Linked DNA regions of Homo sapiens: region 2 is linked to region 1. Evidence: fine-mapped expression QTL. A gene starts in region 1. The other region holds a variant in brackets. All regions are shown on one strand. Distances are from middle to middle. Region 1 holds the start of PDLIM7 (PDZ and LIM domain 7). Region 2 overlaps FAM193B (family with sequence similarity 193 member B).

What was found. PIP is the estimated chance that this variant, and not a neighbour inherited with it, causes the effect.
Region 2: its variant is the best candidate, but not a certain one, in a credible set for the expression of PDLIM7 in monocytes (BLUEPRINT, PIP 0.51).

Annotation. Positions count from the first base shown.
Region 1 is chr5:177,495,140-177,500,501 of GRCh38, reverse strand. PDLIM7 (PDZ and LIM domain 7) reads left to right here and starts at 2,898. Exons shown (of 13, transcript NM_005451.5): 1 at 2,898-2,974; 2 at 3,979-4,085. The coding sequence starts at 3,990. RefSeq lists enhancers at 1,285-2,024, 2,243-2,292, 3,505-4,246 and silencers at 2,503-3,212, 3,623-3,702.
Region 2 is chr5:177,523,151-177,528,512 of GRCh38, reverse strand. It overlaps FAM193B (family with sequence similarity 193 member B), which reads left to right. Exons shown (of 9, transcript NM_001190946.3): 6 at 3,308-4,328; 7 at 4,481-4,556. Among named protein-coding and RNA genes, the nearest start is that of DDX41, 8.9 kb to the right of the region's middle. The variant C/T (reference allele first, on the strand shown) is at 2,874.

The DNA.
Region 1 (5,362 bases):
GGCTCACGCCTGTAATCCCAGCACTTTGGGAGGCCAAGGCAGGTGGATCGCTGGAGGTCAGGAGTTTGAGAGCAGCCTGACCAACATGGAGAAACCCCATCTCTACTAAACATATAAAAATTATCCGGGCATGGTGGTTCATGCCTGTAGTCCCAGCTACTCGGGAGGTTGAGGCAGGAGAATCACTTGAACGTGGGAGGCAGAGGTTGCAGCAAGCCGAGATCACACCACTGCACTCCAGCCTGGATGACAGAGCGAGACTCCGTCTCAAAAAAAAAAAAGAAAAGAAAAAAGAAAAAAAAAGAAAAGTGTTTCAAGCAGGGGAACTGGCAAGTGGAGAGGCCCTGAGGCAGAAATATGCTTGGCCTGCTGGAGGAAATGTGAGTGAGGAGGTCAGGGTGGCTGGAGTGGAGGGAGCGAGTGGTAGGAGTCAGACCCAGTTTATTCATATTCTGTAGGTCTTAAGGACTTCAGTTTTATTTTGAGTGCAATATGAGCCCACTGGAATGCTAAAAGCTGAGAGTGACATGGTGCTGTGATTCTGGCTTTAAAAATATCACTTTGGCTGCTTCGTGAAGACTCTGGAAGGGGCAAGGGTGAAAGCAGGGATGCCCGTTAGGAGACCGTTACAGGGGCGCAGGCACAAAATGGCAGTGGCTGGGACAATGGTGGCAGCAGCGGTTAGATGTGAACATGTTGAAGGTGGAATTTGCAGAATCTGGGGGAGGACAGAAGAGAAAGGATAACTTCATCGTTTCTGCTGAACCAGTTGGATAAATGTTGGTGGCACTTCTTGAAGTGAGGAAGGAGTTAGGAAGGTGGGAAAGGCACAAGTTTGAATTGGGCCATGATGGTCTGAGATACCTAGTACAGTGGTTCCCCAACCTTTTTGGCAGAAGGGACCGCTTTCATGGAAGACAATTTTTCCACAGACTGGGGGTGGGGTGGGGATGGTTTCAGGGTGGTTCGAGTGCAGTACATTTATCATTAGACTCTTTTTTTTTTTTTTTTTTTGAGATAGAGTCTCGCTCTGTCACCCACACTGGAGTGCAGTGGAGCCATCTTGGCTCACTACAACCTCTGCTGCCCAGGTTCAAGTCATTCTCCTGCCTCAGCCTCTCAAGTAGCTGGGATTATAGGCATATGCGCCACCACGCCCAGCTAATTTTTGTATTTTTAGTAGAGACGGGGTTTCACCATATTGGCCAGGATGGTCTCGAACTCCTGACCTCAAGTGATCCTCCCCCGCCTCAACCTCCCAAAGTGCTGGGGTTACAGGCGTGAACCACTGCACCCGGCCCATTTATCATTAGATTCTCATAAGGAATGAGCAACCTAGATCCCTCGCATGCACAGTTCACAATAGGGTTCACGCTCCTATGGGAGTCTAATGCTGCCGCTGCACTCAGCTTCTCTGGCTTGCCGCTGCTCACCTTCTGCTGTGCAGCCCAGTTCCTAACAGGCCACAAACGGGGAGTTGGGGACCCCTGATCTAGTAAACATCTAGGCAGGGTTTTGGATAATGGAGTTAGAGTTCCTGGGGAGAGGTCAGGCTGGCCATGAAACATGGGATGCCTTTGCATATAGGTGGTGTTGAAAGCCACAGGACAGTACGGGGTCTCAGGGGGTGAGCATAAAGAGAGGCGACATCAGATGGCCAAGGCCAGAGGCAGAGGAGGATGGGAAGGAGGGGCCAGTGGGGCAGGGGGAAGCTGTGAAGCCAGGGAAAAAGGGTGTTTCGCGGAAAAGGATCAACCTGGACCAGTGCTGCCCCTAGGCAGGGCAGGATGAAACTTAACCACCACGGATTCCATGGCCCCATGGCCTCCAGGCCACAGGGGACCTTGAGAAGAGAGATCTCAGGGGACGGGTGCGGACAAGAGCCCGCCTGGCATGGCTTCAAGAGATAACTGAAGGAAAGCAAGTGGAGACGCGATAAACAGACAACTCCCTGGAGGAATTTTACTCTCGAGAGGAGAATTAAAGGGTAGTAGCTGGAGAGGGATGTGGGGTCAAGAGAAGGTCTTTAACGACGAGAACTCTCACGGCGGTTTGTGCAGAACAGGGTGGGTGTGATGACTGTGGATGGAGAGGGGAGAACTGCAGCGACTCTGTCCTAGGAGGAGGTGATGGGCCGGGACCACCAAGCGAGTGGAGGGTGGACGCCCCTTCCCTCACCCCGACACCCGCATGTGCTCAGTGTCCGTGCCGCCGGCCCTAGTGCCTGGGCTGAACGCGGGGCCGGGACTCTGAGGACGCCTCCCAGGCGGCGCAGTCCGCTCTGGCCAAGGTGGAGCGGGACGCGGCGCTTCCGACGGTGCGCGGGTCGGCTCGGGGTTGCAGGGACATCCGGCGTCCGCTCCTGCCCTGTTTTCCTGCCTTCGGCAGAGCGTTGCGCAACTCTAGCTTTAAACGCCCCTGTCCCCCTCAACTTGTCTCCCCCAGCCCCTCTGATTTACAGATTCTGCAGTCCCCGAGGGTTGCGCCTACGATACCGACACTCGCGGCAGCCCTGCGAGGCGAGTATGATCGTCCCATTTTTCGGAGTAGCAAACTAAGGTTCAGAGACTACTATGTCCCAGGTCGGTCTGGTTTGAAGGTCCGCTTTCCTCTCCCTCCGCCAGCGGGCGGTGCGAGGGACTGGGCGAGGCAGCGCTTCCCTAAGGAGGCGACCCGCAGCCCCGGCCCCCTCCCGACTCCGCCCCGTTGCAGGGCCCGGGTCGGCGAGGCCTCTCAGCTCTAAGCCCGACGGGACTTGGTGATTGGGCAGGACGGAAGAGCTGGGTGGGGCTTTCCACCAGCGGAGAAAGTCTAGTGGGCGTGGTCGCGACGAGGGCGTGGCCTGGTGCCCCGCCCCCGTCCGCGCGCTCAAAGTGGAGGGTGGCTGTGGGGGCGGGGTCAGAACACTGGCGGCCGATCCCAACGAGGCTCCCTGGAGCCCGACGCAGAGCAGCGCCCTGGCCGGGCCAAGCAGGTATCGACGACCGCGCGGGGCGTCTTGGGCTGCACCAGGCGGGCGCCCGGGGCCTGCTGAGGACCACAAAGGGCACTGGGGGTCGTGGTCCAGGCTGTGCTTCCTCCCGCTGGCCCTGGCCCCTGCCTCCGCCCCCGCCCCCGCCTTCCTGCCGCTAAGCCGGCTGCGGCGGGGCCGATTGGCGCCTGCGCCGCTTCCTGCGGCCGGGGCCAGTCTAATGCATGGGGCCCGGGCGGGGGACTAAGGGGAAACTGAGTCACGTCGGTGTGGGAGCAGTTCTGTGTGGGAGGCACCACCCCCCACTGGGCTCGGGGAAGGATCCCCCTCCAAGCTATGCTTGAGGGTCCCAGCCCCCATCTGTCTCCACAGGGGCCGCACCCCACTCCCGCCTTCCCCTTCTTCAGCACCCAGGGGTCCCGCCCTGGCTCCCAGCAGCCTCGACTGGTCCCGGAATGGCTAGGAGGATCCGCTGCAGCCGCCTCCCTCCCCTCCCCTCCCCTCCCCTCCCCTCCCCCCCCCCTCGCGTCCCAAGCCCCCGTGTGCTCCCTCCGCTGGCTCTCCGCACAGTGTCAGCTTACACGCCTTATATAGTCCGAGCAGGCTCCAGCCGCGGCCTGCCTGCCGGGACCTGGGGGCGGGGGAGAGGAGAGCCGGCCCCTGACTCACCCGGCCGCCCGAGGCTCCAGGCTGGCTTGGGGGGAGGCCGCGCCAGTTTAGTCCCTCGGCCCACCCCTGGTTGCAAAGAACCTCAAGCCTGGATTCAGGCACCCCTCACCGTTCCAGTCCCAAGGGGAGGGGGGCTGCTCCTGTCTTTCCAAAGTGAGGTCCGCCAGCCAGCAGCCCAGGCCAGCCTGACAAAATACCTGCCTCCTATGGCTTGGGCGTGCTCAGGGGCTGCCCGTGCCTGCCTGGCCCCTGTCCAAGGCTGGTATCCTGAGCTGGCCCGGCCTGCCTGCCTGCCCGCCCACCATGCTGGCCACTCACCTTCTCTTCTCTCCTCTCAGGAGCCGGCATCATGGATTCCTTCAAAGTAGTGCTGGAGGGGCCAGCACCTTGGGGCTTCCGGCTGCAAGGGGGCAAGGACTTCAATGTGCCCCTCTCCATTTCCCGGGTGAGCCTAGGTTTGGGGAGGGGGCTCCCCCAGCGGTCTTTCGGTGCTTAGGTCTCCAGAGGGTGATGGGGGGAGTCCTAACAGGAGCTGGTCAGGGGCCAGCAGGCCAGGAGATGTCTAGGTCCGGAGATGTAGTGGTACCTGCCTGCCACAAGGACTCCCAATGAGGTGGATACTGGGAGGGAGCACCCAGGCTTCTCCAGCCCTGCACTGTACCCGATGCTGTTCTCCCAAGCTCCTGTGGCCACCTCTGAGGGCTGGAGGGAGGCTCATTGTGCAGGATGGGAGCCTAACATTTCAGGAGGTATCTAAACTTGAGGTGGCAATGCTTGGAGCCAGGCCCCAGGCAGGACACTGTGACTATAGGATTTCACTTCAGCCTCACTGCCGCCCAGGGAATAGCAATCCTCATCCCGTTTTTCCAGATGAGAGAAGAACTCATGGAGAGGTGGCGGGGCTCGCTCATCGAGTCCATGGTGAAGCAGGGATTGGAATTGAGGCACAGCATGGCGTACATTTTTTGTGGGTAGAAGGGGTCTCTCCCCAGCCTATGTAAGGACCCACATCCACTGTTCCCATTCAGGATGTGGTGGCCTTTGACCCCAAGCAGAAGTGTAGGACAGGGCTCCATTCTAGGGGCTTAACTTCAGCTTCCAAGAGCCTGCCCTGGTGTGGGTGGAGCTGGAGGCTGGCTCCTCCCTGTAGCAGGGGGATTGCCTTATAAGCCCAAGAATGCAGCCCCACGCTGGGATGGCCAACAGTGGCTGCGGTCTGCAGAGCTGAAAAGGGCTGGCCTAGGCCTGGCCCCCTGAACCCCACTGGTGGGCCTCTCAGCTGGTCACCAGGCTGCAGCTCCAGCTATATGGTCCAGTTGTGAGACACAACAAATTGCCTGCCCAGAGTGGGTGAGGCCAGCCTGTCGGCTGGCATCTCTGACTGGCCTGGGGGTCAGGAGGGGGTGGGGACTTCCTGCCCCTATATCCGCCTGCCCCAAGAGACCCACCCAGGCGCCGGGTGGGCAGGCAGCTGTTGTCAGGAAGCCCAAGGCAAGCCCAGCCTGGAGGGGCCCAGAGGGTCGTGGCCTGAGGAGGGGCTCAAGCTGGAGTCTGTCTGTAGGAGCTGGGCGTGGGGGTTAGGGTGGGCAGGCCAGCAGTGCTCTTCTCAGGGGTCCTTTGATGGCATTCTCCTGGAACCTGCCCCGCCAGCAGGGTAGTGAGGCAGTGGTTGCCCTATGACACACGTCCCACTACATAGCCCTCACACAGCCCTGAAACCTA
Region 2 (5,362 bases), 28 kb before region 1:
CTCCTGGTCTAGCTTAGCCTCTCCTCCATGCTGTTCCCGTCCACATTTCATTGTGTCCACCATTCTCTTTTTTGGAAGCAAACTGCTCCTTGAGCCTGTTACCTCTCTCTCAACCCCTCCCCAGCCTCTTTCCTCTCATCACAGCCACACTTCTTGAAAAATGATGTCTGCATTCACTGTCTTCCCTTCCACCCATTAGCTCATTGCAGGCGGTTTTCTACCCACACCCTCTCCAGAGTCACCGGTGACTTTTTTGTTGCCAAATCCATCCTCCTCTGCTGTTCCTATCGTGTTAGTCCACTAGAGAATATCTGGCATTTGTGTTTGTCCTTTTCACACATTGTCTTTGGGCTCCTCTGTCCTCAGCCAGGCAGGAAAGGGCAAGGGGAGTGCCATGTTCTCCAGATGTCTTGCCTGCCCCTCTGACGTCCTTTCTGTCTCCTTTGTGAGCTCCTCGTCCTCCACTTGACCCTCCTTCATGGGGACATCTCCCTGGGAAAGAGATGCCATCTAGAAACAGCCCAATAGTGTTTCCTCCCCACCCTGTACATCCACGTCTCCAACTGCTACTGGACACCTCCTTGTGGACGTCCCACAGGTATCTCAGACTCTGCACATCCAAAGTTCAGCTTGTTGTCTTTCTCCGAACAGGCCTGCTTTCCCTTCTCTGTTGTCTGTCTAGTCAATGGCACCGCCTCCCACCCTGTTGCCTGAGCCGGAGCACTGGGCGCCCGCCTGGGGAGTGCATCATAGTGACCTGGAATAGCATGCCTGGAACTGGATCTCAGTTTGACACTTGGCTCTGCCACACTTGCTGTATGACATTGGGCAAATCACTTAACCTCTAAGCCTCAGTTTCTTCATCCATAAAATGAGAATAACAGAACCTAAGTCGTAGATTGTTGCAGGGATGAAATGGAGCGATGCATGGAAAGGTTAGGCAGAGTGCCTGGCACATGTGAGTTCTCAGGCAGTGGGGCTGCTGTGGCAGCCATAGTGGCCATCAATGTTTCTCTGACTTTTCTCATTCTGTCTCCCTACCCAGCACCAAAAGCCCTATCCATGCCACATCGCTGATAGCTCAGACCAGTCCACCGCTCTCCACCCTACTGCCACTACCTTAAAAGCCATCAGTGGCTGGACATTGCCCTCGGGCACAAACACTGTAGGGCCTGCAGGGCCCTTCACGATCAGCCCCTGCCAGCTTTATCTCTCAGCCTCTCCTTTCTGACCTTCCTGCCCACCTGCCCCACCCAACCCCCACATCCCCCAAAAAATCTGGGCTACAGCTATACCTCTGAATGATTTGCATTCCCAGAAGATACTGAGCTTTCCCATTTCCAGCCTTTCCACTTGCTATTCCTTCTCTCTAGAAAATGCTTGTCTCACTGCCTCCGGGATGATTCCACTCCCCATTCTGTGCTCAGTGCAGATCCTCCCACCTCCAGGAAGCACTCCCTGGTGAACCAGTCTGTGTTGGGAGCATCTCCTCTAGATTCCCAGATCACCCCGTGCTTTCTTCCATGCAGCACTTGTCACTGTCACTCTGAATTCAACAGGCTGTTTGCTGTTGTCTCCCTCAGCAGACTGAAGTCAGCGAGGCAGAGAATGTCTCACGTACGCTAAACTCACAGGGCCTGGCCTGCTGCCTCACAGCCTCAATGGTCGGTAAATGGTTGTCAGATGGAATTGAGAAACATAGGAACTTCTGAAGATCAGGCCTGGGTGTATTGTCCTGGCTCTGCCACTTCCTAGCCACCTCCTCCTCCTGTTCTTTCCAAAGTCGAGGTTTCTCACCTATAAGCAGAGGGTCATGATGCAGCAAAGACAGTGGCGAGGATTAAAGGAGACATCTATGGGAAGTGCTGACGGTACAGAGCAGAAAGTGTGTGTTTCTGTGCTTTCTCCTCTGGCTTCCAGAGTGTATATGGTTCCATATCATTCCCTCCACACCAGCAGTTGTCAAACTTTTTTTTTTTTAGCAGCCAAACTTTTCTGTGAAATCTGTGTGGTGCTGGGGGAGCGAGGTGAAGGGCCCTTGGTCCTCGTTGGTCCAACCCAGGGCCTCTGAGCCCTACTCACAGCTAGAAATGCTGCTGCAGCTGCTGCAGACCAAGCTGCTCCCTGAGGGCCACGAAGCCCAGCCCCACCTTCGCACATGGGAAAGGACCCCACACAGACTCTCAGCTGTCCTCATACTGACCCTGGAATGTAGAGATGCCTCTTCTTCCTAATTTACAAATAGGAAAAGTAAGGTTCAGAGAGAATAAGTGATTTGTCCAAGGTCCCACAGAACAATTGACTGTAGTCCATTGTGGAGCCAGGGTTCACAAAAGATAAGTGCCTGCTGGGACGCAGGGTCACCCTCTGTACATTGACTCCGAGGTGGTAGCAAGCCCTGGTTTCTCTCACCAGCTGCCCTTTCATGTTTCTCTTCCTCCATTCCCAAATCAGCTGGAAGTACAGGAGGCAGTGGGAGTCAATGGCGCCAGGCGCACCACAGCAACCTCCTTCCCGAGGGTTTTTTATCTGCCGCCTGTCTCCCTCTAAAGGCATCGTTGGCCTTGAGGTGGGATGGAGAGGTTGGGGTGACTGAGATCCCACAGACTTTCATTTTGATTCCCTAGATCCAGATCTGTCAAAGCCAACTGGCAGGGCCTGGCCTCTCTGAGCCTTCCAGGCCTCACCTGGGCAAAGGAGCAGCTCTCACATCTTGCTGTGTAGGCCAGTGTGTTTGTCCATGGTATGCCATTGGGCACACTCTAGGTGTGACCTTGATTACTTGAGACCAAATGTGCAGCAAGTGGCCTCTCTACGGGAACACCGCCCTCTTTGGTAACACCCAGACATAGCATCAGGAAGGCACATGCCCT[C/T]CCAACCAGAGTAATCTCATCTACCCCCACACCTGCCTCCTGTAAGACCCCGTGATGGCATGGCTTTTTCCCCACCACCCGTAGGGGTGGAGAGAATGCCTCTCTAGTAGTGGTCTTCACATGCATCCCCACTTTGGCTTTACTCCGGAATTATTGTCCCCATTTTGCAGATTAGTCCACTGAAACTGAGGCTCTGGGTGAACAAGCTGTAAAAACCCTACCCTCTGTGGGTGTGACTACCCCTGCCCCCAGGACATGTACCTGTCTGGCTGCAGTTTGCCCTCACTCCTGCAGGGTGGGTAAGCAGGCTAGGATTTTAAGGCTTTGCTTCCAGCAAGTTAGTGGCAAAGCTGGGCCCCAGGCTGATGGGTCAGGTATCACATTGTGCCTGGCAGTTGACAGCCTCCTGCTAAAACTGCCTCTTGCCTTGGCAGGAAAAGGAGAAGGCCCAGTTGGCAGCAGAAGCTCTAAAGCAGGCAAATCGTGTTTCTGGAAGCCGGGAGCCAAGGCCTGCCAGGGAGAGGCTCTTGGAGTGGCCCGACCGGGAACTGGATCGGGTCAACAGCTTCCTGAGCAGCCGTCTGCAGGAGATCAAAAACACTGTCAAAGACTCCATCCGTGCCAGCTTCAGTGTGTGTGAGCTCAGCATGGACAGCAATGGCTTCTCTAAGGAGGGGGCTGCTGAGCCTGAGCCTCAGAGTCTACCCCCCTCAAACCTCAGTGGCTCCTCAGAGCAGCAGCCTGACATCAACCTTGACCTGTCCCCTTTGACTTTGGGCTCCCCTCAGAACCACACGTTACAAGCTCCAGGCGAGCCAGCCCCACCATGGGCAGAAATGAGAGGCCCCCACCCACCATGGACAGAGGTGAGGGGGCCCCCTCCCGGTATCGTCCCCGAGAACGGGCTCGTGAGGAGACTCAACACCGTGCCCAACCTATCCCGGGTGATCTGGGTCAAGACACCCAAGCCGGGCTACCCCAGCTCCGAGGAGCCAAGCTCAAAGGAAGTTCCCAGTTGCAAGCAGGAGCTGCCTGAGCCTGTGTCCTCAGGTGGGAAGCCACAGAAGGGCAAGAGGCAGGGCAGTCAGGCCAAGAAGAGCGAGGCAAGCCCAGCCCCCCGGCCCCCAGCCAGCCTAGAGGTTCCCAGTGCCAAGGGCCAGGTCGCTGGCCCCAAGCAGCCAGGCAGGGTCCTAGAGCTTCCCAAAGTAGGCAGCTGTGCTGAGGCTGGAGAGGGGAGCCGGGGGAGCCGGCCAGGACCAGGTTGGGCTGGCAGTCCCAAAACTGAGAAGGAGAAGGGCAGCTCCTGGCGAAACTGGCCAGGCGAGGCCAAGGCACGGCCTCAGGAGCAGGAGTCTGTGCAGCCCTCAGGCCCAGCAAGGCCACAGAGCTTGCCCCAGGGCAAGGGCCGCAGCCGCCGGAGCCGCAACAAGCAGGAGAAGCCAGCCTCCTCCTTGGGTGAGTGCACCAGGAACTGAGCGGCTGACCCCCTACCCCAGCCAGTCCACGGGGTGGAGGGGCAGCCTTTGTGTGTAGACAGCGCTGCCCCCAGAGCATAACCCCAAAGGCCTGGCCATGGGCACTGAGCCCTCCTGGCTGTGTCTTCCTAGACGATGTGTTCCTGCCCAAGGACATGGACGGGGTGGAGATGGATGAGACTGACCGAGAGGTGGAGTACTTTAAGAGGTAGGTGTGGGCTGCCTGCTCTCCCACTTGTGGAGGACTCCAGGTCCTGCCCACACTCAAGCCCTGTGTTGTGCCTCAAGCCTCAGAAAGGCCTGCTCCCTTGGCCCTGACCCCTTGGGGAGGCTCACCGCCCCCCCAGGCCCTCTCCCACCAGCCTGCCTGCTGAAAACCCACGGAGCCACTGGGCAGGATGGCACATCTGGGAAGGTGCAAGAGATAGGAGGAGGCATGTCAGGCCCCAAGAACCAGGGCTTTTTCCAGCTTTATTTGCTTTGTGTCTTCACTTGCACATTCTCTGCTTTGCCTGGGCTGAGGTCAATGAAGCAGTCTAGACCAGGAGTCTGGCCATGAACATGCAGCCTACTGATAAATGGCATAGAGTTGGGGAGGATAGAAGGGGTGGGGGCTGGCCAGGAGGCCTTCCCAGGAGAGGTGGTAACCAAGTTGAAACCTGAAGAGTAAGAATGAGTTGGCCAGATAAGATGAAAAGGTATTCATGCCAAGGGGGCCAGTGAGTACAAAAGATTAGGGTGAAAGAAACACGGCATACAGTCACCCTCCATATCTGCAATCAAAAATATTCAGGAAAAAAAACAAAACACAAAAAATAGCAATACATTACTAAATAATGCAAATTTTTTAAAAATTAGTATTTTTGGCCAAGCGCGGTGGCTCATGCTTCTCATCCTAGCACTTTGGGAGGCCGAGGCGGGTGGATCACCTGAGATCAGGAGTTCAAGACCAGCCTGGCCAAGTTGGTGAAACCCCGTCTCTACTAAAAATAGAAAAATAAGGCAGGTATGGTG